5 separate regions of the Homo sapiens genome follow, and regions 2, 3, 4 and 5 are each reported to be linked to region 1. The links are microRNA targets in miRTarBase. Many come from high-throughput screens and were not tested one by one. Region 1 holds a microRNA gene; each other region holds the end of a gene's coding sequence.
Evidence for each region. The annotated mature microRNA hsa-miR-193b-3p reads AACUGGCCCUCAAAGUCCCGCU and lies in region 1 at 2,920-2,941, shown strand. An mRNA with a match to its seed (bases 2 to 7 or 8) in the 3' UTR can be bound and repressed. Matches are read on the target gene's strand: a 7mer-m8 pairs with bases 2 to 8, a 7mer-A1 pairs with bases 2 to 7 and ends in A, and an 8mer does both.

Region 1 (6,139 bases):
TCATGTCTCAGTTATGTGGATTCTCTTTGCGAAAGAGGGGCCACTTCTGCAATGGATTTGGGGGTCCCTGGGCAGGGGTGTGGGGGTGGGGGAAGATTTTAGGAAGGGGATGAGCTGCTGGGGGGGGGCATCTCCCTTACTGCGGGAAATGAAAAGTATTACAGCTATGGCTGGTGAGAGTGTCAGCACCAGAGGCCAGATCTTTGCCAGGTGGAGGGGACACCCTTGTGCCCTACCCCCAAGTTCCAGCACCTCTCCAAGAGCCCTTAGCCCCGGAAGCAGCAACAAAGTGACATTGGACTGGGGAGGAGGAAGCACAACTTTATTTTCTGGCCCGAAGCTGGGTTGGTATTTGGGGGAGTTCTTGGGAACACAGTGTGTCTGTGCAATTTCAACCCTGGGGGATCCAGGGGACTCCAGCCATTCCAGAGGAGGTGAGAGACCGTCATGGGGTGGGTGTAAGAGGCTTGGGGAACCTGCCTGATGCTGCTCCTACTTTTACTGTTTGTTCACGGGGGTTGTGTGTGTTTGTGCGGCGGGGGAAGCGGGGGGTGCTGAAAATTGGGGGAAGGGCCAAAAGCGCCAGCTGGCATTGGCACTGGGTGTTCCCGAAAGAGGGGGACAGACCGGGTCTGAATCTTCAGTGGATGCGCCCCTAGCTCCCGGATACCTCAAGCGCCTTTGGAGGACTCCAGCACGCCCCTCGGGAGGGAAGCCCGGCCTCGGTTCCGTCTGTGGGCTGCGGTGGTACTGGAAGTGGGGACTCTTTCCCCCTCCTCCGTGCCCCCTGTTTGAAGCACCCCGGGCTCTGCCCCCCGCCCCCAGGGTCGAGGCTGACGTCGCCGCCGCATTTCTAGGAATGCCCCTATCCGCTGACTATATTTGGCGAGCGTTTCTAGGAAGGCGCCCCCCCACCCCGGCCCCCGCCCCCACCCCCACCCCCACCCCCACCCCCACCCCCACCCGGGCGGGCGCGCTAGGCTTCCAGGCTCTCGCCCTCTCTGCCTGGCCGGGGAGGAGCCGCCCCGCCGCCTGGGCCGCTGCCGCCGCCGCCTCCCCAGCGCGGCCAACCCCGGGCCGGCCCAGCCCCCGCCCCGGGCCGGCCATAGGGCGCTGGGGGGTTGGGGGGGGCGGGGGCGCGGCTTTGTGGCGGCAGCGGACCGTGGAGGCCGGGTGCAGCCCCGTCGGCTGCGCGCTCTCTGCAGAAAAGGATTTTCTACGCTCCCCGCCCATCACTTGGATCTCGTCTGGGGAGGGGCGGATTTTTTTTCTGGAAGTACCCTTCTTCTCCACGGTGGAGGATTTAAGGCTGGGCTCCAATCGAGGCGGAGGCTGCAGGGCCCGCGGGGCGCCCCCCGCCCGGCGCACGCCTGCCCGGAGCCCGGGAAGGCGCAGCCCTGGGTGGGGGGGCCCGTGCACCCCCGGAGGCGGCAGCGGCGGTGAGTGCTCCCCTTCTTCCCGCCTGGCACCTTCCGCCAGCCAAGGCAGGGATCGCGGCAGGTGGGTGCCCAAGCCCCCAGGGCCGAAGGGGTGTGGGGCGGCTGTCTGCGGGGTGGATGGGAACGGGAGAGGGGAGGTGGCGGCGGGGGAGCGCGCGGTTCTCTCGGGACTCGGCGCGAGACGCTTGTCTGGGCTGCGATTGCCGCCGCTGCCGCCACCCCGGCTCCCCCTCGGACCCCTCCCCCGCTCCCCAGAGGGGCGTGTGAAGCCGGGAGGTAGGAAGGGGGCGAGGCCGCCCCCAGCCTCCCTAGTGCCTGGGCTTGGAAATTGACGAGGCGGTGGAGCGTCCGCGTCCCCGCCCCCACCCCGGAAAGCCCGCTCGGGAAACTGACTCGCTGCGTGACCCCGATCTCAATGCCGCGCGCGGAGCAGGCCGGCCGCGCCCGCCGCTCCACGTGCGCCCGAGCCCCGCTGGCATGGGCGGCGGCGCCTGCGGGGGCCGGGCCCCGGGGATCCCGGACTAGCCGGGAACCACCGTCCCCAGAGAGTTACCGCCGCCCCCTAAAGTTGTCAGCTCCCTCCCCCCGAGAAGCAGGCAGCCCTGGCGCGTTGGCTTTAGCTTCTGCAGGACGGGGGCAAAAAAACTAGGTTCCGGGGTGCGGAGCGGGGTGTCTGTGCCCGAGACAACACCAAGTTAGGAAAAAGAAGTTAGAAAAAAAAAGAAAAAGGCATTTTGATTTGGGGGTGGGGGGAGTGGCGTTTCTGGTTTCTCTTTGCTTCCAATCCCCACCAAGCGGAGCGTTGGAATGCGCCGCTTATGTCCTCTGAGGACACATCCATATTTATAATTTATTTTTAGGAGAAGTTGTGAAAAAGGGAGGGGGGTTAAAATGAGGAGAAAAGGTGCGTGGGGGAGTGGCCTTTCCAGAACCTAGAGGCTAATTAAGCTATTAAAATGGAAATCATTTCCCCCAACTTGGGCGCGCAGCAAATTTGACTTTAATGAGAGACGATTAAGGACACAAATAACCAAACTTTATTTAGCTGGAGATGGGGTGGGGGGAACTGTACGAGGCACCTCGGACACCCGATTTATCCGCTGCTAAGGGACGTTTGGGGCACCCCTCGTGTTGTCCGGGAAGCTTTTAGGCCTGTTTGCTGGGCGAGATTGGTGATTGCTCCGGGAGGGAAGAGACACCCCGGGATCAAGCGATCCTCTTGCCCTCAGCCATGGTGTGGCAAATGTCCCCTCCTCCCACAGCGACCCCCTGGCATTTTGGTGAGATGAACCGCCGCCCTGAGGGAACACCCAGTAACGATTCCTTCAGTGATCCCGGTTCTCCAAACTCTTGCCTCAAAGGCGGCCTGCCCCGGTGCTGTCAGCCGTGAATGGGGACTCACTTCTTGGGAAAAGAGGCTTTTGGAGGCTGTGGTCTCAGAATCGGGGTTTTGAGGGCGAGATGAGTTTATGTTTTATCCAACTGGCCCTCAAAGTCCCGCTTTTGGGGTCATTCTGGACAGCGAGGGACTCAGGCCCCGGCAGTCTCGGGAGGGTGAGGGCAGAGAGCTACCACCCCCAGGGAGCGCGTCCAAAACCCGGCTGGCGGGGGGGCGGGGAAAGAGGGGGAGGTTTGCTACTTTCCATAAAACTAAAAGGTCCCTTCGAGGGCGGTATTCTTATAAGTGTGTGTTCTCAGTTTGCCGAACCTACTGTGTTTTCCAAGGGCTTCTCTCCTTGGGAGGCCGAAAAACGATACAAGGAGGAGAAAGTACATTCCCCCTGACCACCCCCACAGTGGTTTAAGGGACAGTATTGGATTGGAAAGGAATTAGTAGGATGTCAATTGTGGCAAAGTGTTTGAAGCCCCCAAATAAGGCGCTCCTGAAATGATGAATTGTAACGACATTAGATTTGTCTTTACGTTTGCTAAATTAGGAGAAACCAGCTGTTTGCTTCCACCTGGAATTGCAACATTTCTTTGCAACTCTTTGCTGTTGAAGGCGTTCTTTTTGTTCTGTTTTGTTTTGTTTGTTTGTTTGTTTGTTTTTTGGGGACAGAATCTCGCTCTGTCCAGGCTCTGACCAGGCTGGAGTGCAGTGGCGCGATCTTGGCTCACTGCAACCTCTGCTTCCCGGGTTCAGGCGATTCTCCTGCCTCAGCCTCCCGAGTAGCTGGGATTACAGGCGCCCGCCACCACGCCCGGCTAATTTTTTTGTATTTTTAGTAGAGACGGGGTTTCACCGTGTTAGCCAGGATGGTCTCGATCTCCTGACCTCGTGATCCGCCCACCTCAGCCTCCCAAAGTGCTGGGATTACAGGCATGAGCCACTGCACCCAGCCAGGCGTTTTATAGAAGGCTGGATAATACGTTCAGGGGAAGTCTCTAAAGCAAGGGTAGTGTGTATAAATCCCCGTCGCAGAACATTAACCTTCAGTTGTGTGTACACACACACACACACACACCCTATATAGTTGTAACCTATATAGACTTTCACACATCCTAAGTTATTTGCAAGTCTAGATTTAAATTAAGTCTACATAGCAGGGAATAGAAAAGTGAGCTGTACCTGGAAAAAACCTTTGAACACAGCGTTCTTGATACAAGATTTAGGATTTGAAAGACATGGCACATGTACACACAGATGACATTTGTGCTGCCTTGGCAAAAACAGTTCTTTACTTCCAGAGTTCTTTCTCTTTAGTATGGGACACGATGAAACAGCACAATTTTCAGGAGTCCACAATTCCAGCGAGGCGCGTGGATGGGAAATTGTCACGTTGTGAATTGTGTTTGTGCTTTGCTAAATCGCCACCCGGAGCTGACTGTCAAATCCTATTTGCTTTGCTAAATAAGGATATCTCATCAAATTAGCCTTTAATGATACTTCTACAAATAGGGTGTTTTACATGAATTAACGAGGCCGGAACACTGACTGTTTCTCCAAGATACTGAGCTATAATGGAGGCGACGAAGCCGAATGTTAAAATTACTGAATTGTTAAGTGTGCAAAATCAGACAGAATTTAGTGCTAAATGTGAAACAATTTCTGCTTTAATGGTGAGCATTCGCAACAGCACAAGCATTACTTATATTCAGCCGTCTGAAACTGTGCATGTAATTATGAATACATTTAACAAACTTTAACCCCCCTCTGAGTCTGGAAACAGTCTAGTATGGTGAAGAGATTATAAATCAGCATTTTGCAGTGAGAAGTCATCATTAATTCAGCAAAGAATCACAGCTTCTTTTCAGATCCTTCCCACCACCCTCCTACACACCCCCCTCAACCAATAAGGAAAAAAAAAATTCAGCATGGAACTGCTGGATACACTGAATATATTTTGGCTTTTCTCTTTTTGCCTCTGTGTGAGAAACTTCATTAAGCAGTTGCTGTTCCCTCCCCACCCCCGCTAACCCCCAAAGAAGTGTGGATTTAAGAAAAAAAAAAACAAAAAACAAGCAACTTTGAATTTTGTTCTTAGCAATCCCCAAGCCATAGCTGATCTCAGAGAGGCAAAAAAGATGTTTCAATAGAAAAGAATACGGTATGGCCAGGAGTAAAATATTTAGAGGTGGTTCTGCAATGAATATGATACTTCCTTAAAAATAAAATATATGTTGGTGATTCAAACCAATGAAAGTTGGAAAAGTCCCTCCAAGGGAACACTCTCTCTGTTTCCCTTCCCAGCAACCCCCCAACTTAACGTTATGAACAGAAAGATGGAAATTCTTGCCAGATCAACTATAGCCTCCTAACGATCAGCTCACCCTCCTTTAATTTTGATTGTGGAGCAAATACAGCTATTTTAGCCATGAGGATAAAAATGAGTGCAGTGAAAAGTTAAGGCAAACTTGGTACTTAAAATCACTCACCAGAATAAAGTGCGTGTACAAACAAAACATTGCTGATCAGTTACTTTAAGCAGGCATTTTCTTTCTCGCCTGAGCACCCCAAACACAGAAAAATGTAGAGTTCTTTTTGCTTCTTGTATCTGGAGCAGGTGAAAATAAACCCTGACGCTCACAAACATGATATAAACAACATACTTTTCAGGCCTAGTAGCCAAGCCGACTTTTCAGGGAAAGAGATGGACGTTGAAAGAATTTAGGAGTGGACTTGGGGTTCCCTCCATCACCCCATGCCCAGCTGACCCCTTCTGCCCTTCTCATGACCTCTTTTCAAAGCAGCCAGTGTTCAGATGCTGCCTTTCCAGCGTCCCCAGTTGTAGGGGACATATGCACATATTTACCAAGCTTTAAAATAAGGTTTCTGATTTTATATCATCCGTCTGAGTTTACGGAACCACAAAGCAAACTTCTTTCTCCGTGTCCCTGAAATGCTGCCCCACTGCAGCAAAGGGGACTTCGCCTGGGCAGGGAGAGGAGTTAGTGGCTGGTTGCGCCTAAGGTTAGCTGTGCGGTGTGGTATGACAGTTTTCTCAGAGATGTGCAAAAATCTAGGCTCTCTTGCTGGAATCGTGTGAGATCAGTGCTGGGCCTGTTGGCATTGGCATTTGTGCCCAAGACAGCCCAGACCTCTGCCAGCCGAGGCCCAGATGTGGCCTCAGAGCCACTACTGGTGCCCAGACAAGTCCAGACAGGTGCCTGGGGGTCTTTCCTCCCGAGACGAAGCCTGCAGCAGTTCAGCCAGAAGATGGGGTATTTGGCTCTCAAAGTCAGCCTCCCCAGAGACTCTG
Region 2 (6,139 bases), not on the chromosome of region 1:
TCTCCTGCCTCAGCCTCCCAAGTAGCTGGGATTACAGGCGCCCGCCACCATGCCTGGCTAATTTTTTATTTTTAGTAGAGACGGGGTTTCACCGCGTTAGCCAGGATGGTCTCGATCTCCTGACCTCATGATCCGCCCACCTTGGCCTCCCAAAGTGCTGGGATTACAGGCATGAGCCACCGCACCTGGCAGTGGCTGGGGTTTTTATAGGTAACACTGACTCTGGCCTTGTGGAAGCTGGAAAAGCTGCACCATTCATATAGGAGAGTAGGTTAGAGGGTAGTTCTGGCCCTGAGAATTGATCCCTAGGAAATCCAAAACAGTGAAAAAAACTGAGCACTTAAGCTTGCTTTATATTAGCAAACATTTGGGAATCACCTATTCAACAAAAGTGAACTTAAGTAAATTATGGTAGAACTCAGCTTGTTGTATCACTGTTTAAAGAAAGGGGTTAAGAATACTTTATGATGGGGCCAGGCGCTGTGGCTCACGCCTGTAATCCCAACACTTTGGGAGGCCAAGGTGAGTGAATCATGAGGTCAGGAGTTCAAGACCAGCCTGACCAACATGGTGAAACCCCGTCTCTACTAAAAATACAAAAATTAGCTGGGCGTGTTGGCACGCACCCAATCCCAGCTACTCAGAGGCTGAGGCAGGAGAATCGCTTGAACCCGGGAGGCGGAGGTTGCAGTGAGCCGAGATTGCGCCACTGCACTCCAGCCTGGTGATGGAGCAAGACTCCATCTAAAGAAAAAAAAAAAAAACTTTATGATGGCTGGGCCCAGTGGCTCATGGCCTGTAATCCCAGCACTTTGGGAGGCTGAGGCAGGTGGATCACTTGAGGTCTGGAGTTTGAGACCAGCCTGTCCAATGTGATAAAACCCTGTCTCTACTGAAAATACAAAAATTAGCCGGGCATGGTGGCACATGCCTGTAGTCCCAGCTACTCAGGAGGCTGAGGCAGGAGAATCGCTTGAACCTGGGAGGGGGAGGTTGCAGTCAGCCAAGATTGTGCCACTGCACTCCAGCCTGGGCGACACAGCAAGACTCCATCTCAAAAAAAAAAAAAAAAAAACAACTTTATGACATGGGAAACTGCTTATGCCAAGTGAGGAAAGTGCAGTTCATAATTGCATGTCGTTTTTTAGGATAATCATAGTAGGGGAAAGAACTAGATTGCAGCATCTGAAGATATAAGTGGGTGATATTTGTGACTCCTTATTAGTTAAGGAAACATTTTAATAAGAGGTTTTTAGCTGAGGCCTGAAGTTAGGGAAGAGAACAGGCCAGGAACTATGGAACAGGTCTCTCTGGCCTAATTAGTCAGGTATACCCACTGATGTCACTTTCCTTCCAGGTGTCAGCTGACAGGGGCTCTGGCCACAGCTTGTGGGGATGACGCGATCCGCGTGTTTCAGGAGGATCCCAACTCGGATCCACAGCAGCCCACCTTCTCCCTGACAGCCCACTTGCATCAGGCCCATTCCCAGGATGTCAACTGTGTGGCCTGGAACCCCAAGGAGCCAGGGCTACTGGCCTCCTGCAGTGATGATGGGGAGGTGGCCTTCTGGAAGTATCAGCGGCCTGAAGGCCTCTGAGCTACCTCGACTTTGGACAGAGTAATGACTCCCCAGAAAACGTCATATAAGACTTTACCAGCCCCTGAGAGGACCAGGAGGAGCATCCTTGACCTTCATTTAACTTGGCTCACTTCTCTTCAGACTTGGGTAGAAGTGCAGAGCCACAGAATTGCTTTCCTTCCCCGCCTTTGACATGAGGCCTTCAGTAAAGAGCTACAGAACATGAGTACATTGTTATACCACAGATTTTTCTTGCATTAGGGCACAGTGTTAAATTTTTTGGAGGTAAATATACTATTTATAATCACTATATATAGTAGGAGGGGGTATGTGTCTCAGGCTTTTCTGAAGTTGCAAGACTTAAAGAAATAATCCATCTGCATCCCAAGTCCTATTTTATAAGGATATTCATAAAAATTCCATGGTGAATCCTTGTCTGAAATAGGTCCTCCCTTCCCAGTTTCTGTGTAAGTCTTTGCATTTAAGACATCCAATCAATAATGAAGGAAATTTTTTTCTGAATGTAGGTTTGAGTGAGGGGCACCTCTGCTTTCCCTTAGCAACCCTCATATACCTCCCTGCACCGTTACGCTGTGATGGCAACTGGGGATAGAAAAAAAATGGGGAAAGACAGGAATCCTAAAAGGGAGAGTTATTACTGGCCACAAGCCCTGTATTCTCAACAGGGATGCAAATTGGTTCTTCAGTAAGGATAAAAAAAAATCACAAGCAGTTGTTTGTGGCCCTCCTAAGGCCCACAGCACATATAGTGTGTCTGTGATATTCCATTTTCATGGCAGGGAGTGATCAGGAAGAAGGCTTCCTAGGGGACTGGCGATTTAAACCAGTTGAGAAACACTGCCATCAGCAGGCAGTTTCAGACTCACTCAAGTTGTCTCTTGACAGTCACTTCTAAATGGGTTCTAATGTGACAATGGCCTCCAAAACTACAGCCTTCCCTGAAGTTTAAGCTGTGACCTTAGATTTTAGAAGGACAGTGGGGCTGTACCTAGAATAGTGGTTCTCGAAGAATGCGGCCTGCAGATCCTGGGAGTCCCAAGACCCTTTCAGGGAGGATCTGTGAGGTCAACTGTTGGCACTGTGGCATGAATCAAGGTGGTGGCAGCAAACTTCTAGTAGTTTTGATATGTCCTTGATAGAACAAATAGCAATGGTTAACTATTAAATGTTGACCTAGCCAGCGCAGTGGCTCATGCCTGTAATCCCAGCACTTTGGGAGGCTGAGGCGGGCGGATCACCTGAGGTCGGGAGTTCGAGGCCAGCCTGACCAACATGGAGAAACCCCGTCTCTTCTAAAAATACAAAATTAGCTGGGCATGGTGGTGCATGCCTGTAATTCCAGCTACTCGGGAGGCTGAGGCAAGAGAATCGCTTGAATCCGGTAGGTGGAGGTTGCAGTGAGCCGAGATCATACCATTGCACTCCAGCCCAGGCAACAAGAGTGAAACCCTGTCTCAAAAAGAAAAAAAAAGTTGACCTTGAGAATTTATAATATTCTGAGAAAACTGGAAGCATGCATAAAGCCCCTCTGCTGTGCACTGAAGTATGGGTGCCTTGAGGAAAAGCAGTTACACAGTTGAGTTGCAAGCTGAATTGGCTGTGTTCAAGGCATGCCCTTTAGAATTGAAAGAACTAGCAGATTACGGTATTTAGACTTGAATATTTGGCTGATATTTTCTGGAAATTAATGGAATGAGCCTCTCACCTCAAGGGAAACAACTGATAGTGTTGCCAGTGATAAAGCTTTCAAGCAAAAATTGGAATTTCCGAAAATCTGTACTCCACCATGAGCTTTATTGTTGGGGATATTAACAAATGTGATTTGTATAATGAAATGCATTTCATTTGGAAGAATTCAATGAACCATTTTTCCAAGTGACCAGTACGTGATGTTACAAAATCATGCATGGCTCAAAGATTGATTCAAAAGTGTAAGACAGGCCAGTGGATTTTAATGTATTAACAATATAAGAGTGCATTAAGTTTTCGGAGTCTACATTGCCTTTAAGAAACTATGACTTGTAGTAAGCCGGGCGCGGTGGCTCACGCCTGTAATCCCAACACTTTGGGAGGCCAAGGTGGGTGGATCACAAGGTCAGGAGTTCAAGACCAGCCTGGCCAATATGGTGAAAGTCCGTCTCTACTAAAATTACAAAAATTAGCCGGGCGTGGTGGCAGATCCCTTGTAGTCCCAGCTACTCGGGAGGCTGAGGCAGGAGAATAGCTTGAACCCGGGAGGTGGAGGTTGCAGTGAGTCGAGATCGTGCCACTGGACTCCAGCCTGGGTGACAGAGCGAGACTCCATTTCAAAAAAAAAAAAAAAAAAAAAAAATCACTTGTAGTCTTGGTGTGGTATCAAAGAATAGCCACAATTAGCTGAAAAGGCTATTTTAAAAACTTTTCCAACTGCGTATCTGTGTGAAGTCAACTTACTTCAACAAAAAAGTTTGGATGTAGAAGCAGCTGTAAGAATTCAACTGTTTATTATAACAAGATACTAAAGAGACTGTAAAATGCCACCCTTCTCCTTGGATTGTTTTGGAAGTTATTCTTCATAAAAAATGTTAACGTGGGCTGGGCATGGTGGCTCATGCCTGTAATCCCAGCACTCTGGGAGGCTGAGGTGGGCGGATCACTTGAGCTCAGGAATTCAAGGTCAGCCTGGGCAACATGGCTAAACTCTGTCTCTATTAAGAAAAAAAATGTTAACATTATGATTTAAAAGTGCATTAACCTTAATCTAGATAATAAAAGCTTTTTGGGGCAACCTCCAGAACTGTGAAAAATAAATTTGTTATTTAAAAAGAAAAAAAAAAAAACAAAAACCTGAGTTTCTTAGTTTTTAGTAGTGTAAAGAGGTCCTAAGACCAAATCATTTGAAAACTGCTACCCTGAGGAAACTGCCCTTCAGAATCATCTTTCAATTTTGTGTGCATTTAATCTAAAGAACAGAAGGTAAGAATTTGAAGACAGTCGGAAGATCTGGATTAGAAAACCTGTTTATTAAGACTGGGTCACATCCAGCTAGTACATTTCAGTGCCCTTTCTGGTGCTGCCTCCCAGGAGCAGACACTGCAAATTTCAGAACCCCCATCTAGAGAAACCCCTAACCTGTGATCTAGCTTCCGAGGCTCAGTGTTGGTTCTTGTGGTAGTGCTGATGTGTGGGTACCACTGAGGCCAGGCCACAGTCGCATGTACCCTCCTCTGGGCTGACTCACGAGGCTACAGGGGACAGCACACCTAATGAGCAGGTCTGTCCTCCAGACATACTCATTAACAAGCACGTTCCTGGCTAAAAAATAACCAGATCTTTTTGGCCGTGCCCTCAGGTTGGAGAAAGAAAACTTTTAATTTGGAATCACTACAAAGACAAATGGTTTCTACAAATTATTTTATTAGAATGTCAGACTCAAAAGAACTACCAGGAACATGCCTGAAAATGCTATATATGATTTATGCTTGACCCATGACACCTGCTGTCACTGGATCCAGAGTGAGCAAGGGAAAGGAAGTGGAGGTAGGCGGGGACAGCACCAGCCCTGGCTGGCCAGACCTGAGGCCCACAGACCTGGTCCCCACAACCAGGATTCCTACAATGTACACATTCCTAATTCAGGCTCAACTCTCCTTTACCCAAAAGTAAATGCCTCAGGACTCAATCTGAATCACTGTCTGTCTCAGCTTCTTTCACATCCACGCTGAATTTGTACTCCTGGTCACATCCCATGTAAGCGTCACTCATGAAGTACAGAGTGTAGTTGTGGGCACCAGTGGCTGGGGCCACAAAGTCCAACTTCACCTAGAAAGAGCAGGCAGAAATCAAGATGAGCATGGACACAGGAAGCATTCTCACCCTTCCCCCATGCCAGAACAAATGCTAGGGCCAGTGGACACACTCACCTTGGCCTTCTGCTGCAAGGTCAGCCTCTTGATGGAGATGAGGCTATTGGACTTGGCATCTCCAATCACCACCCACCAGCCCTCTTCACGTTTCTGCAGTGATCCAAAACCAAGAATTTCAGCATGTAAAACTTGATGACCATAGGCAACCATGAAAATGGTACAGTTACAAAAGAGAGAACAAAAATCAGATAGCTTTCCAAAGTTTCTTCCCGAAATACAATTAGATTTAACATTTTAATACTATCAAAAGTTGTCTCAAACAGACTTAATTTTTTAAGTAGATGAATTCATTTGTTGGTTCTGGCTCATTTCCTTGTGCCAAGGTACCTTCTCCCACTTAGTACCTGCCACTAAGTCCAAGGTACTACTATTAGAGGTCTAGTCTTTGGGGCCTAGGAGCTTTGAGTTCCTTAGAGATACTTTTAAGTACAAGGCAAATCTGCCAGATGAGAAAAAGCTTAGGCTGGGCGCGGTGGCTCACGCCTGTAATCCCAGCACTTTGGGAGGCCGAGGCGGGTGGATCACGAGGCCAGGAGATCGAGACCATACTGGCTAACATGGTGAAACTCCGTCTCTACCAAAAATACAAAAAAGAAATTAGCCGGGCATGGTGGCGGGTGCCTGTAGTCCCAG
Region 3 (6,139 bases), not on the chromosome of region 1:
TCCACCAGGTGGCACAGAGGGAGGGAAGCAGCCTGCGCCCAGCAGGACCCCGGGAAGGGACAGAAGGGCAACCTGGCTGGAGCCCCATCTCAGGGGCATGTGCTCTGTCTCCGCAGGCCACGTGGTGCTTGCGCAGTGCCGAGTGCTGATGGCCAGTGTGGGGGCCGCGTGCCACTCGGACCACGGGGACCAGTAAGTGCTCTTCACAAACCCAGTCCAGGGCATAGGGGTCCTCCGGGCACTGGGTGTGGTGGGCAGGCGGCAGGATCCGGCCACTGGGCCGCACTCTGGCTGGTGAAGGACAGCCCTGTCTGGGCCCTAGGAGGGGCAGAGGGAGGGCTTCCTGGAAGAAGTGACTTCCAAGCTGCCATCTGAAGGACTAGGACTTGTGCGGGAGAAGAGGGCTTCTCGTGCTCAGTTCTGAAGGCGGAGGGAGGGCAGGGCCTGGAGGGCCAGCGTGGCCGGGGCTGGGGAGGGCTGGGGCGGGCTGGGGTGGGCTGGGGTGGGGATGGCCTGAGTGTCAGTGCTTACTTAAACCTCATGGAAGTGGGAGCCCTGAGGGCCATGGTGTGAGCAGACTCAGGTGTCAGATCAGCCATCTGCAAGATGCAGCAGAGATTCTCAGATAGCAGGGCCCGGGTGAGCGGGTGGGCTGCCTGGCGGAGACTGTGGGGTAGAGGGCGTGGGGTGCCCGAGCAGCGGCCTGCTGGCAGCAGGGGAGAAGTGGTTCTGGGTCTGGTCTGCTGAAAACGTGAGGCCCCTGTGGGAGGTCGGAGTGGACGCAGGAGGAACACTCAGGGTTCTGGGGAGAGAGCGGAACTGTAGCCAGCAGCACGTGGCCATCAAGGTCAGGGCAGAGGGATTGTGCAGGAGCACCTGGAGCGAGACAGTGGTGGGCCTGGCTCCAGGGAAAAGGAGGGGCAGGATGGGGCCCTTTGTTGGGGGGACAGTGCCCTGCTGCAGGAGGGGCAGGGGAGGAAAGGGACCCGGGTGTGATGAGGTCAGGCCCCTTGACAGAGCCCACATCTCGAGCCTCCAACAGCCTTGCTTCAGGATGTCCCCACGCAGTCATCTGTTCATGGCTAGATACTGACTGGGTCCCTAGTGTCTGCAAAGCCCCATGCTAGGTGCCATGAAGTTACCAAGTGGCTCAGGTGGGCCGCATGGGTAAGGCACTGTCTGTGTCGGCATCCGTGTTCTCCAGGACCTCAGACCCCTCAAGGACAGGAGAGCCCCTGGCCCCAGAGCTCAGTGCGAGAGGGAGGCAGTGTCACCTGGGAGTGCCAAGTGCAAGAGAACTCTGCAGGGAGAACGGGGGCGACTTTGAGCCACACCTTGATGTGGGTGATCTTAGGGGTGTGCTTGGTCTGGGAGTTTAGCAGGAGGTGGATGCCAGGCGAGGCAGGCGCACATCCGGGTGGGCAGAGCCCCACTAGGGGAGTGGTCCAGAGCAGGGGGGGCTGTGTCTCTTCCATGTGCCCTCAGCAGCAGCTGCAGCTCGGTCTCGCCCTCCCCAGGCCGTCCCCAGTGCTGCTGAGCTACGGTGTCCCCTTCGACGTGGCCAGGAACGCGCTCCGGCTCAGCGTGGGCCGCAGCACCACCAGGGCCGAGGTGGACCTCGTCGTGCAGGACCTGAAGCAGGCCGTGGCGCAGCTGGAGGACCAGGCCTAGCACTGGGGCCGCCTTCCCCACCCCGCTTCTGGGAAGCCCGTGGCAGGGCACAGGGTTGTCCCTCCAGTTCCCTCCTGAGGGCTGTGCCAGGATGACTGTCTCATGCCCCCTCTGCATTTTGTCCTGGAGTGCCAGCGAGTGTGCACCCCCAGTTTCCTTCCCTGGACCCCTGCAGAGCTCACAGGGCCCAGGACACCAACGCCGCATAGGACTGCCCACATGGGACCGCCCACATAGGACCGCCCACATAGGACCGCCCACATGGGACCGCCCACATGGGACCGCCCACATGGGACCGCCCACATAGAACCGTCCTCCAGTGGTGAAGCGGAAACACTTAGCTTTATCCACCCTCCCCACTGGGAACTGGGCACGCCTGTTGTGAGTGCCCTTTCCTGGAAGGTGTTTTTATCTGGAAGATAGAATCCAAGTATTTATAACTCATTGTCAGCCAAATGCTATCATGAACGTAGGAAACTTGATTTTTTTGTTTTGATCATGGCCTCTACATGCACCTTTCCAGAGTGGTCTCTTCTCAGGCCCTTTTTAGTCCCTTTCCAAAGCTGCCCCCACCACCCTGCTCCTCTGGCCTCAGTGCACAGTGGCCCCCAGCCTCGGCCAGGCCTGCTCTGCTCAGCGCCCACCGCCCACCACCCCTCCTGCTTCCCCGAGCCTGACCCTGTTCCGCCCACTGGCAATCAGGGCTGCGCACTTCCCTGTCCACGGTCCCCAGGCCTTCCTGTCTTGTCCCTTTTGATCATTATTAACTCAGGGTTTCAGCTCCAACCTCGCTGAGTTGGTGCAGCTCCAGGTCATTCCTGGGGTGGGAATCGGATCATCCCTGACTCAGCTTTTACCTTAATTTTATTTGCAGAGGATTCTTTTCTCAAAATGCTCTGGCATTTGGACACACATCACATGTCGATATTTGCATAGGAGTCATTTTCAGTGGAATAACATTTTTAATGTGTGGTTTTACGGTTCAAGGAACTACTTGATGATTTTGAGGAAACACTTGCCAGAAACTAAATTAACGAATAAAAGATTTCAGTGCCCGACTTGGGGATCCTGTGGTTTCTCTAGTGGGCACTGCGCTTGGGCACAAAGTCATCTGACAGAGCCTGTCGGGGGGAAGCCAGGGGTGCAGCAGCCCCCAGGTCACCATTGTGTGATGATGCGTTAGCCCAGAAATCCAGCTTGAGGCTGTGTCTCCGGAAGCCCCTACAAATGTAATGGGTCCCCCATCTGCAGCTTCCCATTGCTGCCAGGAAGAGGCTGTGGTGGTCCTGACTTCCCTAAAGAAGAACTATGGATTGTCCAGAACAATCTGGAAAGGGGTTAAATGTACTTGGGCCCTTGGGGCTGCAGCCCAGAGACTTGGTCCGTGTAGTTGGAGAGGGGGCCGAGGCAGGGGCTGACACCTTCTCGCCTCAGAGGCCTGGACACACCCAAGTCAGGGTCCTGAGCCCATTGCAGGCCCCGTGGAGCCACTGTGTCCCCAGAGATTCCTAGGAGCCTCCAGGGCCGAGGGCCGGGACCCAGAGGCGGGGCGCTCAGCTCTGTGGGTGTCAACACAGCCAAACATGTAGACCTACTGGGCACCCTTTACTTCAGACACACTGTGGTGGCGGCTGGGGGTCTGCCCTTCTGTGAGAGTTGGGGGAACTGTCTCCCAGGCCACTCGGGGCTCCTGTGAGAAGCTCAGTGGCGTGTATCCTCAGCCCTCGCTCCACAGATGAAGTTCCTGCCATCTGGACAGATCTGAGCAGCCTCAGGGCCAGCCTCCTTTCTCTGCTGGCCATACCCAGCCCTGACCTAGCCTGGTGTGGGCCTTTCCCTGTGCCCTGTACTCCATCCTCCCAGCTCCAGGCACCTGGCACCCTCACACTGTGGGAGTGGCTTGGGCAGGTCCTCAAGGCCTGTCCCCCCACCCGACCCCACCCCACCGCCTCCCATCTGCCCTGTGGCAGCTTATCGGGTAACCAGAGCCGGCAGCTTCATCCACGTCTGAAACAGGAAGCCCCAGCCTGTGCATGAGTCGCCACTGAGAGCCCGGGCCAGAGGATGGAGAAGCAGCGGGCACTCGTGGCCGCCAAGGATGGGGATGTGGCGACGTTGGAGCGGCTGCTGGAGGCTGGCGCCCTGGGCCCGGGCATCACCGATGCTCTGGGGGCCGGCCTGGTTCACCACGCCACCCGGGCTGGCCACCTGGACTGCGTCAAGTTCTTGGTGCAGCGGGCCCAGCTGCCCGGCAACCAGCGGGCCCACAACGGGGCCACCCCAGCGCATGACGCCGCTGCCACGGGCAGCCTGGCCGAGCTGTGCTGGCTGGTCCGCGAGGGGGGCTGCGGTCTGCAGGTGAGCGGGGATGGGGCAGCCTGGCTCCACGAAGCTGGCTGGGGTGGAACCAGGGAGGTGTGAGCCACGGAGGATCAGAGTACTGGCCACCCCGGGCTCCATGGCCCTGGGCCCTTTGTTTCTCTTGGGGACTCAGTCAGTGGTTACCGTCTCTGCCCCACGCCTCTCAGAGCACAAAGGCTTGAGAGCCAAGAACACCTCCTAAATTTTCTTATCACCTTCCCTGCCAGGAAGCTGGGCGTTGCCAGTGGGGGTCTTGCCAGATATCAGGACCCCTGTCTCTGATCAGGCCTGGTCCACAGGGCCTGCCTCCCAAAGGGTCTAGAAAGGGATCCTTACAGAAGCACTGTGGGAACTTGGGCTTGAGAGCTGGGAGCCTAGCCCTGGGGGACGGGAGTTAGGGCTGCTGATGGTGATCGTCTTGTCCGGATCGTTTCTACTGGGCCCCCCTCCCCTATCCTGCCTGCCCAGTCCCCTTTGTGCAGGCGAGGCCCTTAGAGCTGTCGCTCAGCCCTGTGGAGCTTTCAGGGCTGAGGGTGAGCAGGACTGACCGGCCTTAGAACGCCGCCGCCCAGAGGTCAGAGTTGAGGTGGGGGCCGGTGGGGCCTGCTTAGACTGCGGAGCGGGAAGGTTCCCCAGCACCTGGCTCGCCAGAGCACCTGAGAGTCCCGGCCCAGCATCCTGTTCCTGTCGGCCCTTCCGCCAAACCCAAGGGCAGCAGGCGGGAGCTGTGCCTGCCTGGGGATCCATTCTGACAGGGCCCTTGGAGAAGGCCCAGGTCTGCTGGACCCCTGACACCTGTGGTAGGAACGCTCCCTGGCCCCGGGACCCTGTGGCCAGCGGGAGGGCACTGGGGCAGGGGACCAGCCAGAGGTAGGTGTCCTGGGAAGCCTTTCTGACCATGAGCAGAGTGGGCAGGTGTCTGCGGGCACCCGACTGCGTGGGAAAGGGCCTTCTCCACACTGGGGACGGGCCCAGGAGAGGGCAGGGTTGCCAGAGGTGGCCTCCCAAGACCTGGACCTGAGTCCTGGCCCTCCTCTCACCTCAGTCCCAGCAGGGAGCACCTCCCTCCATGTTGCAGGCAGAAACGGAGGGAAGGAGGAAGGAGCTGGAAGCCCCTTCACTGGGTTGCAGGCAGTGTGAGCCCTCGCCCAGGGCCCACCTCCGGCAGCTGGCTCTGACCTCACGGCCTACCCCCCACTCACTGACCTACCCGGGGCTTGGTAGGACCAAGATGCCTCGGGCGTCTCCCCGCTGCACCTGGCCGCCCGTTTTGGACACCCAGTGCTGGTGGAGTGGCTGCTCCACGAGGGCCACTCGGCCACGCTAGAGACCCGGGAGGGAGCCCGGCCGCTGCACCACGCTGCCGTCAGTGGGGACCTGACCTGCCTCAAGCTCCTGACAGCCGCGCATGGCAGGTAAGGAGCCCAAAGTCCCGCCTGGGGGGGCAGCCTGGGGCGAGCTGGCCAAGGGGAGGCTGCACCATGGAGGGCCAAGAGGACAGGCTGGTGGCCTTTGAGGTGAATCCTGCAGGCGGGCATGCTGTCACTGTGGGGGTGAGCTGGCAGGAGCCAAGGGCAATGAGGCCTCTACCCACAGGCCAGGCAGTGGCAGTGCCATGCCAGGGCCCAAGGGGACACAGGCCAGTGCTTCAGCTTGGAGAGTGGCTGGGGGCGGTGACGATGGCAAGATGCTGCTGTGATGCCCAGGGCAGCTCTGGCCCCACCTGGGGGCATCTCGGGACCTAAAACAGCTGGGGACGTGGGCAGCTGGCAACCTGTGAGGGCACCCTCCCATCACCTGACAGGAGTGGGGACTGTCTAGTGGACTTGGGGACACAGAGGCTGGAGCTGCCTCTGCACTGCCCCACCCCTGTGCTGGGACCCCTAGAGCCGGGCGCTGGCCTCATCGTCTCTGGGGCCCTGTGCCCCCTGCTGGAATTAGTGGATGGGCAACGAGGAAGGACCAGGGTCAGGACAGCCAGTAAGGCAGATGGCCTCCCTCCCCACCTGGAAGCTCCTCCAGTCCTCGCCCTGCTTACAAAGGTCACTGTTGTCATAGGAACAGGCCCTCTGCCTCCTACTGTCTTGGCTGAGGGCGAACCTTCCTG
Region 4 (6,139 bases), not on the chromosome of region 1:
TCAGTCAGTGAATATTTATTAACATGGTTAAAGACATATATATATATATATATATATTTTTTTTTTTTTTTTTTTTTTTTTTTTTTTTTGAGACAGTCTCACTCTGTCGCCCAGGCTGGAGTGCAGTGGCGTGATCTTGGCTCACTGCAAGCTCCACCTCCCGGGTTCATGCCATTCTCCTGCCTCAGCCTCCCGAGTAGCTGGGACTACAGGCGCCCACCACCACGCCCACCTAATTTTTTGTATTTTTATTAGAGACGGGGTTTCACCATTTTAGCCAGGATGGTCTCTATCTCCTGACCTCGTGATCCGCCCGCCTCGGCCTCCCAAAGTGCTGGGATTACAGGCGTGAGCCACCGCGCCTGGCCTTTTTTTTTTGTTTGTTTGAGACAGAGTCCCGCTCTGTCATGCAGCCTGGAGTGCAGTGGTGCCATCTTGGCTCACTGCAACCTCTGCCTCCCAAGTTCAAGTGATTCTTGTGCCTCAGCCTCCCAAGTAGCTGGGATTATATGCATGTGCCACCACGCCCAGCTAATTTTTGTGTTTCTTGTAGAGACAGGGTTTCGCCATGTTGGCCAGACTAGTCTCAAACTCCTGTCCTCAAGTGAGTCGCCTGCCTCGGCCTCCCAAAGTGTTGGGATTACAGGCATGAGCCACTGTGCCTGGACAAGAAATTTCTATTATTATTTTTCTCTCAACAAATTATCAAACATCTGTTACATCTTGACAGGCAACAGATAAGCATGAATAAGGACATGGGTCACCAATCTCACTGGGGGACAGATGACAAAGTAGGAAACAAAACAGCCTGGCATTGTGGCTTGTGCCTATAATCCCAGCTACTTGGGAGGCTGAGGTGGGAGGATCACTTGAACCCAGGAGTTCAAGGCTGCAGTGAGGTATGATTGCATCATGGCACTCCAGCATTGGCGACACAGCAAGGCTCCGTCTCTTGAAAAAAAAAAAGTGAGAAGTGCTATATATCATATCACACTGATAAGACAGAGTAACTAGGGCATGGGTACTTCAGCTGGGCTGAGGGGAATGGGATTGTTAGGGACATGACATTTACACTGAGGTCTGAAGGATGAGAAAGAGCCAGAATGTTTGCTGGGAAAGCACTTCAGACAGAGGGAACAGCAAATGTAAAGGCCCCGAAGCAGGAATGAGCTTGGTTGTTTGAGGAACCACAAGAAAGCCAGTGTGGGCTGGGCGCGGTGGCTCATGCCTGTAATCCCAGCATTTTGGGAGGCTGAGGCGGGTGGATCACCTTTCAGGAGTTTGAGACCAGCCTGGCCAATGTGGTGAAACCCCGTCTCTACTAAAAATACAAAAATTAGCTGGGCTTGGTGGTGGGCGCCTGTAATCCCAGCTAGTCTGGAGGCTGGGGCAGGAGAAACGCTTGAACCCGGGAGGTGGAGGTTGCAGTGAGCTGAGGTGCAGTAAGCCATTGCACTCCAGCCTGGGCAACAAGAGTGAAACTCCATCTCAAAACAACAACAACAAAAAGAAAGCCAATGTGGCTAGAATACAGGGAGGAAGGGGGAAGAGAACACAAAATCCTGGGAGCCAGGAGTCCTAGTGATCTCTAATAAATGCTTAACAAATAAGAGCTTGGCAACAGATGAGGCCATGGTGAGGGGTTTGGATTTTAGTCCATATTTGGTGGGAAAAAGACGTGAAGAGACACACCTAATTTGTGGGTTTTTTTTTTTTTTTTTTTGGACAAATGTATAAGGACCTCCTTAATTCCCTCTGCCCGGTTCCTACCTTCCAGGTCCACCCCGTGGCGCTGGGCCAGGTGAAGAACATTGTCCCCGACTCTGCCACTCACTGGGATCCGCTGGCCTGAGCGGTCTACGAACACCACGTTCACCCTGGGGACAGATGGAAGTGCGAATGCCGAACTGGATGATGGGCTCAGGGCCCGGGTAGAATCTAGGGTTAGGAAGTAGGAATTGAGGCTTGACGCACAGGTACTGAATAGGGCAAAGCAGAAGGGGGACCTCGAGATGAAGCTACAGGGCAAGATGGGGACCAGAGGAATTCCGTGGGATGAGGAATGGGGGACTTGGCCCCCTGCACTCACACGTCCCCGGGCCGCTCCGGGCCGCCCGCGTCCTCCTCTCCAGCCGGGCGCGAGCCTGGAAAACACGGTTCGGTGAGCGGCTGCGCCGAGCCCCGCCCCGCCGGCATCTGACGGATTAACGCTGCCCGCCCCGGGCGCCCCAGGTACCTGTCGCTTGAAACTTTCTGGTTGTCCCCAGCGCCACCCCCTCCCCCGACCCGGAAGTGCCCCCAGGTCTGTTCCACCAGGTGCCCCTGGCAGCCTGCAGTAGAACCCTGGCACTCACGCCTCCCCGGGCCATGGAGGCGGCCATGACATGCATCACGTGACTCACCGACTGAGCATGCGCCGCGCCAGGGAGGCGAGGGAAAGCCCATAATCAATGGAACATAAGCGCAGATGTTTGCTTAGGGCCTGCGGTGACCAGGTGGGAAGAGCAGGGCGGAATCCATCTCAGGTAAACCCGCGGGGCCATCCCAGACCTCCCACTCAAGCCCACTGTTTGTCCCAAGAACCAGCCAACTCTGATTTCTTTAAAACCATTTACTTACAAACTTTAATTCAGCAAAGGTCCGTGTGGGGAGACTGGGGTGGGGTCGGGGGAATAGTCCCCTTGGAGTGGATGTGGACCCCCAGAGTCAAGGGAGGGAAGCTGGTGGCCCAGTTGGCTGGGGGCAAGGCCCAGGGTCACCTCAGGTCGACAGGTCCTGCTGGTGGGCGGGCCCAGAGTTTATCTTCATGGAGTGCTGGTTTCTGGCACTGGGCTGGAAGGAGGCCAGCTCCAGGGATCTGGCCGGGGGTGGGCAGGCAGAATTCAAGAATTCATCTTCAACAAGCGAGTGACAGCAGAGGCTCCGGGAGATGGGCACAATGTCCGACTCCCACAGACAGACAGCAGGGGACTGGCAGAGAAAGCCCATCTCTGCACGGAGGCCCGGGTAGGAGGGGGTGGTGGGGCCGGTTCGCCAAGATGAAGGCTTTCCCCTTCTACTGTCCCCAGGGTGGAGATCCTGGGTAGGGTGGCCCAATCCCTAGGCCAGAGCTGTTTGGTCCATAGTCAAGCTCCCAGAGCTTGGCATCTGTGGCTCTGGCCAGCAGGGCCTGGGGCCCAGCTTTTAAGGCATCAGAAGGGGAGGGGGCTGCGGCAGGGACCCCGGGCCCCACGGCTGGGGTATAGGCCAGATGGGCAGGCAGGGGCAGGAGACAGCCATGCCTGCAGCAAATGTGGGAAAAACAGCTGTTTCAAACCGCAAGGTGTGGAATGGTGGCCCGGACAGGCCGGGCCTTGAAGGAATCAGAGCTGGGGGCTGTCCGGGGTGGTTTGAAAAATAAAACTTAGAAAAGGAAACAGAAGTCAGTTGTCAAAGTTAAAAAAAAAGGAGACAGTCTCTGTATCTTCACGGGAGGTCAGGGAAACCTCCAAGGCACTCGAAAGGCCAAAATTACAGGAGCAATGAGGCAGGAGGGCTCCGGAGAGACGGGCACAGCGGAGGAGGAGATGGGGGGAGGGAGGGAGAGCAGGCCGGGGCCCCTCTCTCTTAAGGCTGCAGGGTTTCAGCGTGGGGAGCAAGCCAGAGACATAATGAGGCCTCCAGACTCCCCCACACCCCTTGGGCTCCTGGGGCTCCGGCTGATTGGTCAGTAAAGTCTTTCAGAGATTTTTCTATTACCGAAAGAGAGAAAATGGTTTAAAAAAAACACAAAACAAAACATCAGAAAACCCAAAAGCGATTTGGTGCAGGCCCTTGAGTTATCTCTGGTGCCAGCCACTTAGAAAATCCTCTTCCGCTTCAGGTAGGAGTCCGCGTAGTGGCCGCCGAGGCCCTGGGAGTGCTGGCCCACATAGCTGCCTTCTGGGCTGGGCTCGGGCGAGGGCAGCAGGTGGGCAAAGCTGCGTTTCTGGCCGCCCAGTGGGGTCTGGAGACAGAGGGCAGGGCGGGGCGGGTCAGGGGCCGCTGGGGGGCCGGGGCTTCCCAGCCCTGCATGTCCCCACCCCCTGCCCGTACCTTCAGCAGGTGGCTGTGACCATTAGGCCCGGGGCTGAGGCCCAGGAGCCCTTCTCCGGACCCCAGCGGGGAAGAGCCGATTGCCTGGGAGAAATGGAGAGGTGGAACAGGTCACTCCCTGGGGGCCAGAGGAAGCACCCACCCCGCCCCCCTGCCACTGCCCCCCAGCCCTGAGGGAAAGCGAACAGTTTCAGGTTCAAATCTTGCTTCTGCTACTTTCTAGCTATAAGACCTAGGGCCAATTGCTCCATTTTATTTGAGCCTCGGTTTTCTCATCTGTCAGATGGGGCCAGTAGCACCCACAGCCTGGGCTGTAGAGAGAGGAAGTGACAGAAAGCCCGGAATGCTGGCAGTGCTAGGTGCTTGATGCAGAGTGGATGGAGGACAATAGGCTGTTGCTACTCCACCCTGAGCAAGACCAACCCCTGCCACCACCCCAGCTTTGGCCTGGGCACCGAGGGTTACAGAGCCCCGGTGGCAGGCACCCCCAAATCCTAGCTGTCCCAGGGGGCCTGTGCTTGGCCAGAGAGGTTCCTCACCTTACTGAGGTGGCTCTGCTTGAGGCCAGCCTGCAGGCCGCTGGTGAAGTAGGAAGTGGGCGAGCCTGAATAGAAGTGAGACAGGGGGCCCCCGCCACTCCCACCGCTGCTCCGTTCGCCGAAGCCACTGGGCGGGGGGGACATCTGTAGAAGAAGGGCCGGTGGAGTGAAGCAGACAATTGTAGTACCCAGCCCTTTGTATACAATCTTCCCTCTGCCTCCCAGGTTCAAGCGATTCTCCTGCCTCAGCCTCCCGAGTAGCTGGGATTACAGGCATGCGCCACCATGCCCAGCTAATTTTTTGTATTTTTAGTAGAGACGGGGTTTCTCCATGTTGGTCAGACTGGTCTCACACTCACGACCTCAGGTGATCCGCCCACCTCGGCCTCCCAAAGTGCTGGGATTACAGGCGTGAGCCACCATGCCCGGCAGTTCTGGGCTTTGCAAAGACTAGCTTTGGCTAATAGGACTGAGGAGAGCTGGCACGTGGGTACCCGCCTCCTCTTCCTCCTCCAGGAACCCAGGGATCATCACCGCACGAATGGGCACACAGAAACTGTTCCAGCCTGTGGACGCCAAATATGTGAGGCCACATAGCTCACTGAGACCCAGGTGAGTGCCGGGGACCGCCCACTGCCCCATAGAGTGGCAAGAAGTAATACAATGCCTGGCATGGTATGGTGGCTCATGCCTGTGATCCTAGCACTTTGGGAGGCCAAAGTGGGAGGATTGCTTGAGCCCAGGAGTTTGAGGCCACAGTGAGCTATCATGGAGCCACTGCACTCCAGCCTGGGCAACACAGTGAGATCCTGTCTTAAAAAAACCCACAAAGAACACACAAAATACAAGGTCTGCTGTTCCAGGCTACTAAGTCATGGCACAGCCTGTCATGTAGTAAAAGCTGATTGCTACACATGCCATACCAGGTGGCTCTTACCTTGTGTCGGCTGGGTCCGTGAGGCCCAAGGGCTGGTTCCCGTGGGTGGGAGAAGAGCCGCCGAGGTCCCATGTCCTGAATGAAAGCGGGAGAAGCACATTGGGTTGGAGTCTGTCCCAGCCTCACCCCTGGCTGAACTCCATGGCAGAGCTGTCATCAGGGAAGACAGTCCCCACCACTCTGGGACCAGGAAGAGGCAAATTTGGGGCTGGATGCAGCTTGGCAGGGATGGCTGCTGTGAAGGGGGGTGCCCCCCATGGGCCTAAGTGTTTGGAGTTTCCCAGGCAAGCTGGGAATTCGAGCTGTGTGGACTCTTGCAGTTTTCCTGTGTTGGCGTTAGTTCCTGTTGTTATTTGTTTGAAACACAGAGGGGGCCAAACATCACCCAGGTGACCTGTGGGCGGCCAGTTTGCAATTTCTTTCTTTTTTTTTTTTAAACGGAGTTTTGCTCTTGTTGCCCAGGCTGGAGTGTAATGGCACAATCTTGGCTCACCACAACCTCCGCCTCCCAGGTTCAAGTGATTCTCCTGCCTCAGCCTCCCTAGTAACTGGGATTACAGGCATGTCTACCACACCTGGCTAATTTTGT
Region 5 (6,139 bases), not on the chromosome of region 1:
TACAACCTCTTCTGGAGGCACTTCCGCCACTCAGAGAAGGTATGACCTATACAGGCAGGGCAGGATGGAAGTAGACAGGCCAAGCCAGTGGAGAGGGCAAGGGGTTAGGACCCAGTGAGAGTCCCCAGACTGAGTCTGTCCTGCTAGGTGGGACACCTGGGCCTATTCCTCTGGATTGAAGTCCTATTCCACTGTGTGATTTCAGAGTCTGTTTACTCACCTGTAAAATGGGAATGAGGGTGCCTGCTTCACATTAGTGGTAGCTTGGTGGACCTGGGTTCAAATCATAACACTATCTCTTGATAGCAGTGTGACTTTCGGCAAGTCACATTATCTCGCTGAGTTTTTTTGTTTTTTTTTTTGAGATGAGTCTCCCTTTGTTGCCCAGGCTGGAGTGCAGTGGCACGATCTTGGCTCACTGCAACTTCCACCTCCCAAGTTCAAGCGATTCTCCTGCCTCAGCCTCCTGAGTAGCTGGGACTACAGGCGTGTGCCACCATCCCCAGCTAATTTTTTGTATTTTTAGTAGAGACGGGGTTTCACTGTGTTAGCCAGGATGGTCTTGATCTGACCTTGTGATCCACCTGTCTCGGACTTCCAAAGTGCTGAGATTACAGGTGTGAGTCATCGTGCCTGGCCTCTCTGAGCTTTTTATCCTGTTTTTTTTTTGAGACAGAGTCTTGCTCTGTTGCCCAGGCTGGAGCGCAGCGGTGTGATTTCGGCTCGCTGCAGCCTCCACTTCCTAGGCTCAAGTGTCCTCCCAACTCAGCCCCCAGAGGGCCTGAGGTACACACCACCTGATTTTTTAAATTCCTAGTAGAGATAAGGTCTCACTGTGTTGTCCATCCTGGTCTCAACCTCCTGAGTTCAAATGATCCTCCTGCCTCAGCCTCTCAAAGTTTTTTGTTTTTGTGATGGGGTCACACTATATTGTCCAGGCTGTATTTGAACTTCTGGACTCAAGTGATCCTCTCACCTCAGCCTCCCAAGTAGCTGGGATTTCATTTTTATAATGGGAATAAATACTGCTGTATTTCAAGGTTGCTGGGAAGATAAAATAAAAAAATGTACATAAACCTCTGCAACCTCTGTCTCCCGGGTTCAAGTAATTCTCCTGCCTCAGCTTTCCAAGTAGCTGGGATTACAGGCATCCACCACCATGCCCAGCTAACTTTTTGTATTTTTAGTAGAGATGGGGTTTCACTATGTTGGCCAGGCTGGTCTCGAACTCCTGACCTCCTGATCCACTCGCCTTGGCCTCCCAAAGTGTTGGGATTACAGGCGTGAGCCACCGCACCTGGCCATTTTACCTTTAGGGAATACAGAGCTTAGTCATGATAGGAATGAATGTGCTTGTCCTTGTACTAAACTGCTCAGAGCCTTAGCAGATGCTGGGGCAGCTCTGTAGGAAAGGAAATGGTGAGGTAAGTGGGTCAGGGATCAAGGCAGTCTGGGAGGGGTGTGGGGGTGAGGAGTGACATCAGTTGCCAACATGCCTTCCTCTGTGCCCCAGGTCCACGTGAACTTGCTGCTCCTGGAGGCGCGCATGCAAGCCGCTCTGCTGTACGCCCTCCGTGCCATCACCCGCTACATGACCTGACTCCTGAGCAGGACCTGGGCCCGGTTCAGCTCCCCACAAGGACTTCTCTGTCTGGAGACAGCCCCAGACCCTTTTGTGTCCCATGCCCACCCTCCCCACGCTGCAGTGGGCTTGTGTGTGATGTGCAGTCCCGAAGCCACACCCTCCCTTTTCCTCACTGGAATGGACAGTTCATTGCACTGACTCTGGGATCTCAGCCCTGCTCCTGGGAGCTGGAAGAGCACTTGGAGATCCTAAGGGACCACACCCTTCCTCCTTCCCCTGCCCACAGAGGCAGAGGGCACAGGAAAGAAGCCGGGCCAAGCTCGGAATTAATGTGCCACAAGTGTTGTGGCCTTCCTGAACTGGGAAGTCCCTGGCTGGCCCCCGGGGGAGAGGGGCAAATGCCTCCGGGACTGACACTCCAGGCAGCTTTGCCTTCTCTCCCCTGTCATTTCCAGATTTCATTACCTCCTACTTGCCATTCACCCATCAATGTGAAAGTCAGGGTCACAGCTGGTCTGTGTGTCCAGTTCCCTAAAAGCCTGTTCTGTTGGGCAGCCTGAGGCTGTTGCCCGAATCCTAGTTCAGTTTTTTGACTTCCTTTGCCCTTTTTCCCTTTTCTCCATGCTTAATGGTGTGAGGCGTCAGGAGAGAGGCCAAGTACATAAAAAAAAAAAAAGCAGATTATCTCTAGAGAGTTTGAGCCTTTGCTGGTCACATTGCCTTCTGAAGAGGAGGGAGTATTAGATTATAAATCCTCTTTATTTTGGTCCTTTATGCTTGAGGTTCCAACCTGGAGCCACAGTGTGTGAGAGGAGGAGGAGAGGGAGAATTCTGTTCTCCCAGAGCTGCACCTGCCTCGCAGAGGCCAGCACCCCACTCTCCTGCCTCCAGTGGCCCTGCCGCAGATGTCTCCCAAAAAGTTGAGCCTTTCTAGATGGCTTAGGTGGCACCATGGCTCAGCAGGAGGGGCGGGAGGCACCAGGGTTCTTGTTTGGACCCTGCCCCTGGGCCATGGCCAGGTGACCATGGCTACATTGCCAAACCTCTGACTGCCACAGCTGCAGACTGAGAGGGTGGGTCTGAGTCCCCACAATGTCTGAAGCTGCCCCTGGGATTCTCAGGCCAACCTGCCAACAGCAAGCGGATTTTCTTGCAAGATCAGGGACCCCATTTCTGCAGCCAGTGTCTCCTGGGTGCCTTCTGAGGACTCCCACCCCCATCCCAGTATCTCATCTGTCCCCTCTCCTGGGGCTTAAGTGGGTTGCTTCCAGGCAGAAGCAGCCAAGGACCGATTCCAGGCACTTTCTGTAGCAAATGACTGTGAATTACGACTTCTCTTGCCCTTCTTCTAGCAGTCTGTGCCTCCTCTCTGACCAGTTTGGAGGGCACTGAAGAAAGGCAAGGGCCGTGCTGCTGCTGGGCGGGGCAGGAGAGGAGCCTGGCCAGTGTGCCACATTAAATACCCGTGCAGGCGCGGAGAAGCAACCGGCACCCCCTTCCGGCCTGAAAGCCCTCCCTGCAAGAAGGTGTGCAGGAGAGAAGAGGCCCCGGCATGGGGATCTGGGTTCTAGAGGGCATGTGATGACTGTAAATGTTCACTGGGTGGGTAGGGAGTGGTATCCAGTGTTCAAGTGCAGAAATCTTTGGCTTTGCTACCAGTTCCATATGATGAGAAATAAACGTTCGCTGAGGTTTTGTTTCATACTCCCTTTTTATGGGCTGTTCTTTCAATTTCCTGAAGGTCATGGTTCACCTTGTAGCATAGGCAGAGAGCTGTGATTGCATCATGGGCCTGACCTGATAGCCCCTGCCCTGCCGAGAACTTGTGCCCAGTGATTGTAGGTTGGGACTGTTGGCACTGAAAGTCTACTTGTCCCTTGGACATCCAGTCCTGTCACCCTTCTGCGGCTGCCCTGGCACTGTGGAGTAATAATGACCATGGTGTTTTTCTAAGCCTGGCCATGGGCTGGGTACTTGGAGACCATTCCTCTGAATTTGCAGCAATCCTGTAGGAGAATTGAGACGGGTGAACTGACGTTGTTGAGGCCACATGGCTAATCGGTGGGGGAGCCAGGATTCCCCCCTGCTCTGCTTGACCCTGAGGCCTTGACATTTTACCTTGCTGTTTTGCCCACTACTGGACTTCCCCTGTGACAAAGAGGCTGTTTGAATCTGGAAGGACCCCCTTGTGTCCCCAACCCCACCACATTATGATTACCTGCTTCTCATCCTACCGCCTCCAGCACCAAGGAGACAACGCCAGGAACAAAGAGGTGCAACCCCCAAGCTGTGCCAGTGCCGTTTATGGCTGTGTGACCTTGGTCAAGCTTCTTAACTTCTCTGGGTACCAGGAACTAGTTAGCTTACCAGGAAAACCACATCATGTAAGAGCTAAGACCACTCCCGCGGGCTTCCTACTTCCTATAAATACCGCTGTCAGAACACTAGGTCTCTTCCAGGCAGCCTCCCCTAGTGGACTTTGTGTTCCCCTTCCCCTTGAGGTATCTGTTCATTTTCGCAGGATTCCTATACACTTCCCCTTCCTCTAGAGTCATTTGAGAGGGTGTGGGAGAAAGTGAATCACACTTGGAGTACAAAACCTGGATTCTGGTTCTGATTGAGCCACTCACTATATCGCTGGGGAGATTGATTAATTTCCCTGTGCCTCAAGTTTCCTCAGCCATAGAAATGGGGATAAAAGTTTTCCATTTCTTTTCCAGTTGGCATGCATTGGGTGTTTGTTTGAGATGGAGTCTCGCTCTGTCACCCAGGCTGGAGTGCAGTGTCACAATCTCGGCTCAACTGCAACCTCCATCTCCCAGGTTCTAGCAATTCTCCCACCTCAGCCTTCCTAGTAGCTGGGATTACAGGCACATACCATCACGCCCGGCCAATTTCGGTATTTTTAGTAGAGACAGGATTTCACCATGTTGGCCAAGCTGGTCTGGAACTCCTGAGCTCAAGTGATCCACGTGCCTCAGCCTCCCAAAGTGCTGGGATTACAGGCATGAGCCACTGCGCCCAGCCTATGTGGCATGCATTGAGTGTGACTGTTGCCAAATGTTTTCAAATTTAATCTCCCAATCTTCACAACAACCCTGTGAGGAAAGGGTCTGTTCCCATCCTATAGATGTGGAAATGGAACCTCAAATGAGAATCTGGGGAACACCAATTTAACAGACAGACCCAAATTCAAATTCCAGCTTTGACATTTAATGTCTGTCCGATCATGAGCAAGTTGCTTCAATACTCCCTCCTCAATTTCCTTATCTATGGGATGGAATTAATACCTAAGGTTACAAGAGGGTTGTGAGGATTAAATAATGCATAAAAACCACCTAGCACAGTTCAGGTACCTGGCATCTAGCATTCGCAAGCTGTTCAGGATTCAGAAATTTGCCCAAGCTCATGCGACTGAGGTAGAATTTGAATCCTTCTCATTCTGATTCCAGAGTTCTTTGTATTGCTTTTTTTTTTTTCTTTTTGAGATGGAGCTGGAGTGCATTGGTGTGATCTCGGTTCACAGCAACCTCCCCAGGTTCAAGTGATTCTCCTGCCCCAGCCTCCCCATGTTGCCAAGGGTGGTCTTGAACTCCTTTGCCATGTTACCGAGGGTGGTCTTGAACTCCTGGGCTCAAGCGATCTGCCCGCCTCAGCCTCCCAAAGTGCTGGGATTACAGGTATGAGCCACCATGCCCAACCCTGTATTGCATTATTTTTGTCTCCAAAGTGCCTAAATCCTCAATATGCATTTAAAAAAAAATAATGGCTGGGCACGGTGGCTTACGCCTGTAATCCCAGCACTTTGGGAGGCCAAGGCGGGTGGATCACGAGGTCAGGAGATCCAGACCATCCTGGCTAACACGGTGAAACCCCAACTGTACTGAAAATACAAAAAAAAAAAAAAAAAAAAAAAAAAAAAATTAGCCGGGCGTGGTGGCGGGCACCTGTAATCCCAGCTACCCAGTATTATTTAATCCTCACAACCCTCCTGTAACCTTAGGTATTAATTCCATCCCACAGATAAGGAAATTGAGGAGGGAGTATTGAAGCAACTTGCTCATGATCAGACTGATATTAAATGTCAAAGCTGGAATTTGAATTTGGGTCTGTCTGTTAAATTGGTGTTCCCCAGATTCTCATTTGAGGTTCCATTTCCACATCTATAGAATGGGAACAGACCCTTTCCTCACACGGTTGTTGCGAAGATTGCGAGATTAAATTTGAAAACATTTGGCAACAGTCACACTCAATGCATGCCACGTAGGCTGGACTACAGTCCCAGCCTGTAGGCAGGAGAATGGCGTGAACCCAGGAGGCGGAGCTTGCAGTGAGCCAAGATTGCGCCACTGCACTCCAGCCTGGGCGACAAAGGGAGACTCCTCTCAAAAAAAAGAAAAAAAAAATCATGTTTATTAGGCTGGACCTGATGGCTGACACCCATAATCCCAGCACTTTGGGAGGCCGAGGCAGGCGGATCATTTGAGGTCAGGAATTCAAAACCAGCCTGACCAACATGGTGAAACCCCGTCTCTACTCAAAATACAAAAATTA

Region 2: miRTarBase lists CIAO1 as a target of hsa-miR-193b-3p. Seed matches in the 3' UTR shown: 7mer-m8 at 3,541-3,547.
Region 3: miRTarBase lists SCLY as a target of hsa-miR-193b-3p. The part of its 3' UTR that is shown has no 7-base or 8-base seed match.
Region 4: miRTarBase lists RAVER1 as a target of hsa-miR-193b-3p. The part of its 3' UTR that is shown has no 7-base or 8-base seed match.
Region 5: the mRNA of SESN2 is a reported target of hsa-miR-193b-3p. Seed matches in the 3' UTR shown: 7mer-m8 at 3,026-3,032.

What each region holds. Positions count from the first base shown.
Region 1 is chr16:14,301,098-14,307,236 of GRCh38, forward strand. It overlaps MIR193B (microRNA 193b), which reads left to right and starts at 2,870; the gene lies at 2,870-2,952. MIR193BHG (MIR193b-365a host gene) reads left to right here and starts at 284. Exons shown (of 2, transcript NR_170633.1): 1 at 284-434. RefSeq lists silencers at 928-1,417, 1,702-1,862, 1,768-2,007, 2,961-3,010 and enhancers at 5,373-6,058, 6,059-6,139.
Region 2 is chr2:96,269,754-96,275,892 of GRCh38, forward strand. CIAO1 (cytosolic iron-sulfur assembly component 1) reads left to right here. Exons shown (of 7, transcript NM_004804.3): 7 at 1,358-4,420. The coding sequence ends at 1,598. SNRNP200 (small nuclear ribonucleoprotein U5 subunit 200) reads right to left here. Exons shown (of 45, transcript NM_014014.5): 44 at 5,504-5,596; 45 at 4,585-5,402. The coding sequence ends at 5,259. Among named protein-coding and RNA genes, the nearest start is that of CIAO1, 6.6 kb to the left of the region's middle.
Region 3 is chr2:238,096,685-238,102,823 of GRCh38, forward strand. SCLY (selenocysteine lyase) reads left to right here. Exons shown (of 12, transcript NM_016510.7): 11 at 117-192; 12 at 1,518-2,729. The coding sequence ends at 1,671. ESPNL (espin like) reads left to right here and starts at 3,656. Exons shown (of 9, transcript NM_194312.4): 1 at 3,656-4,029; 2 at 5,257-5,447. The coding sequence starts at 3,736. UBE2F-SCLY (UBE2F-SCLY readthrough (NMD candidate)) reads left to right here. Exons shown (of 19, transcript NR_037904.1): 18 at 117-192; 19 at 1,518-2,729. RefSeq lists enhancers at 1-163, 164-832, 833-1,500, 1,501-2,169, 1,804-2,098 and 1 more.
Region 4 is chr19:10,313,616-10,319,754 of GRCh38, forward strand. It overlaps RAVER1 (ribonucleoprotein, PTB binding 1), which reads right to left. Exons shown (of 13, transcript NM_133452.3): 10 at 5,551-5,625; 11 at 4,614-4,757; 12 at 4,075-4,158; 13 at 2,597-3,985. The coding sequence ends at 3,839. FDX2 (ferredoxin 2) reads right to left here and starts at 2,400. Exons shown (of 5, transcript NM_001397406.1): 1 at 2,237-2,400; 2 at 2,090-2,144; 3 at 1,771-1,877. The coding sequence starts at 2,381. FDX2-ZGLP1 (FDX2-ZGLP1 readthrough) reads right to left here and starts at 2,400. Exons shown (of 9, transcript NR_176052.1): 1 at 2,237-2,400; 2 at 2,090-2,144; 3 at 1,771-1,938. RefSeq lists silencers at 2,035-2,154, 3,288-3,479.
Region 5 is chr1:28,279,203-28,285,341 of GRCh38, forward strand. SESN2 (sestrin 2) reads left to right here. Exons shown (of 10, transcript NM_031459.5): 9 at 1-39; 10 at 1,514-3,289. The coding sequence ends at 1,600. Among named protein-coding and RNA genes, the nearest start is that of SESN2, 23 kb to the left of the region's middle.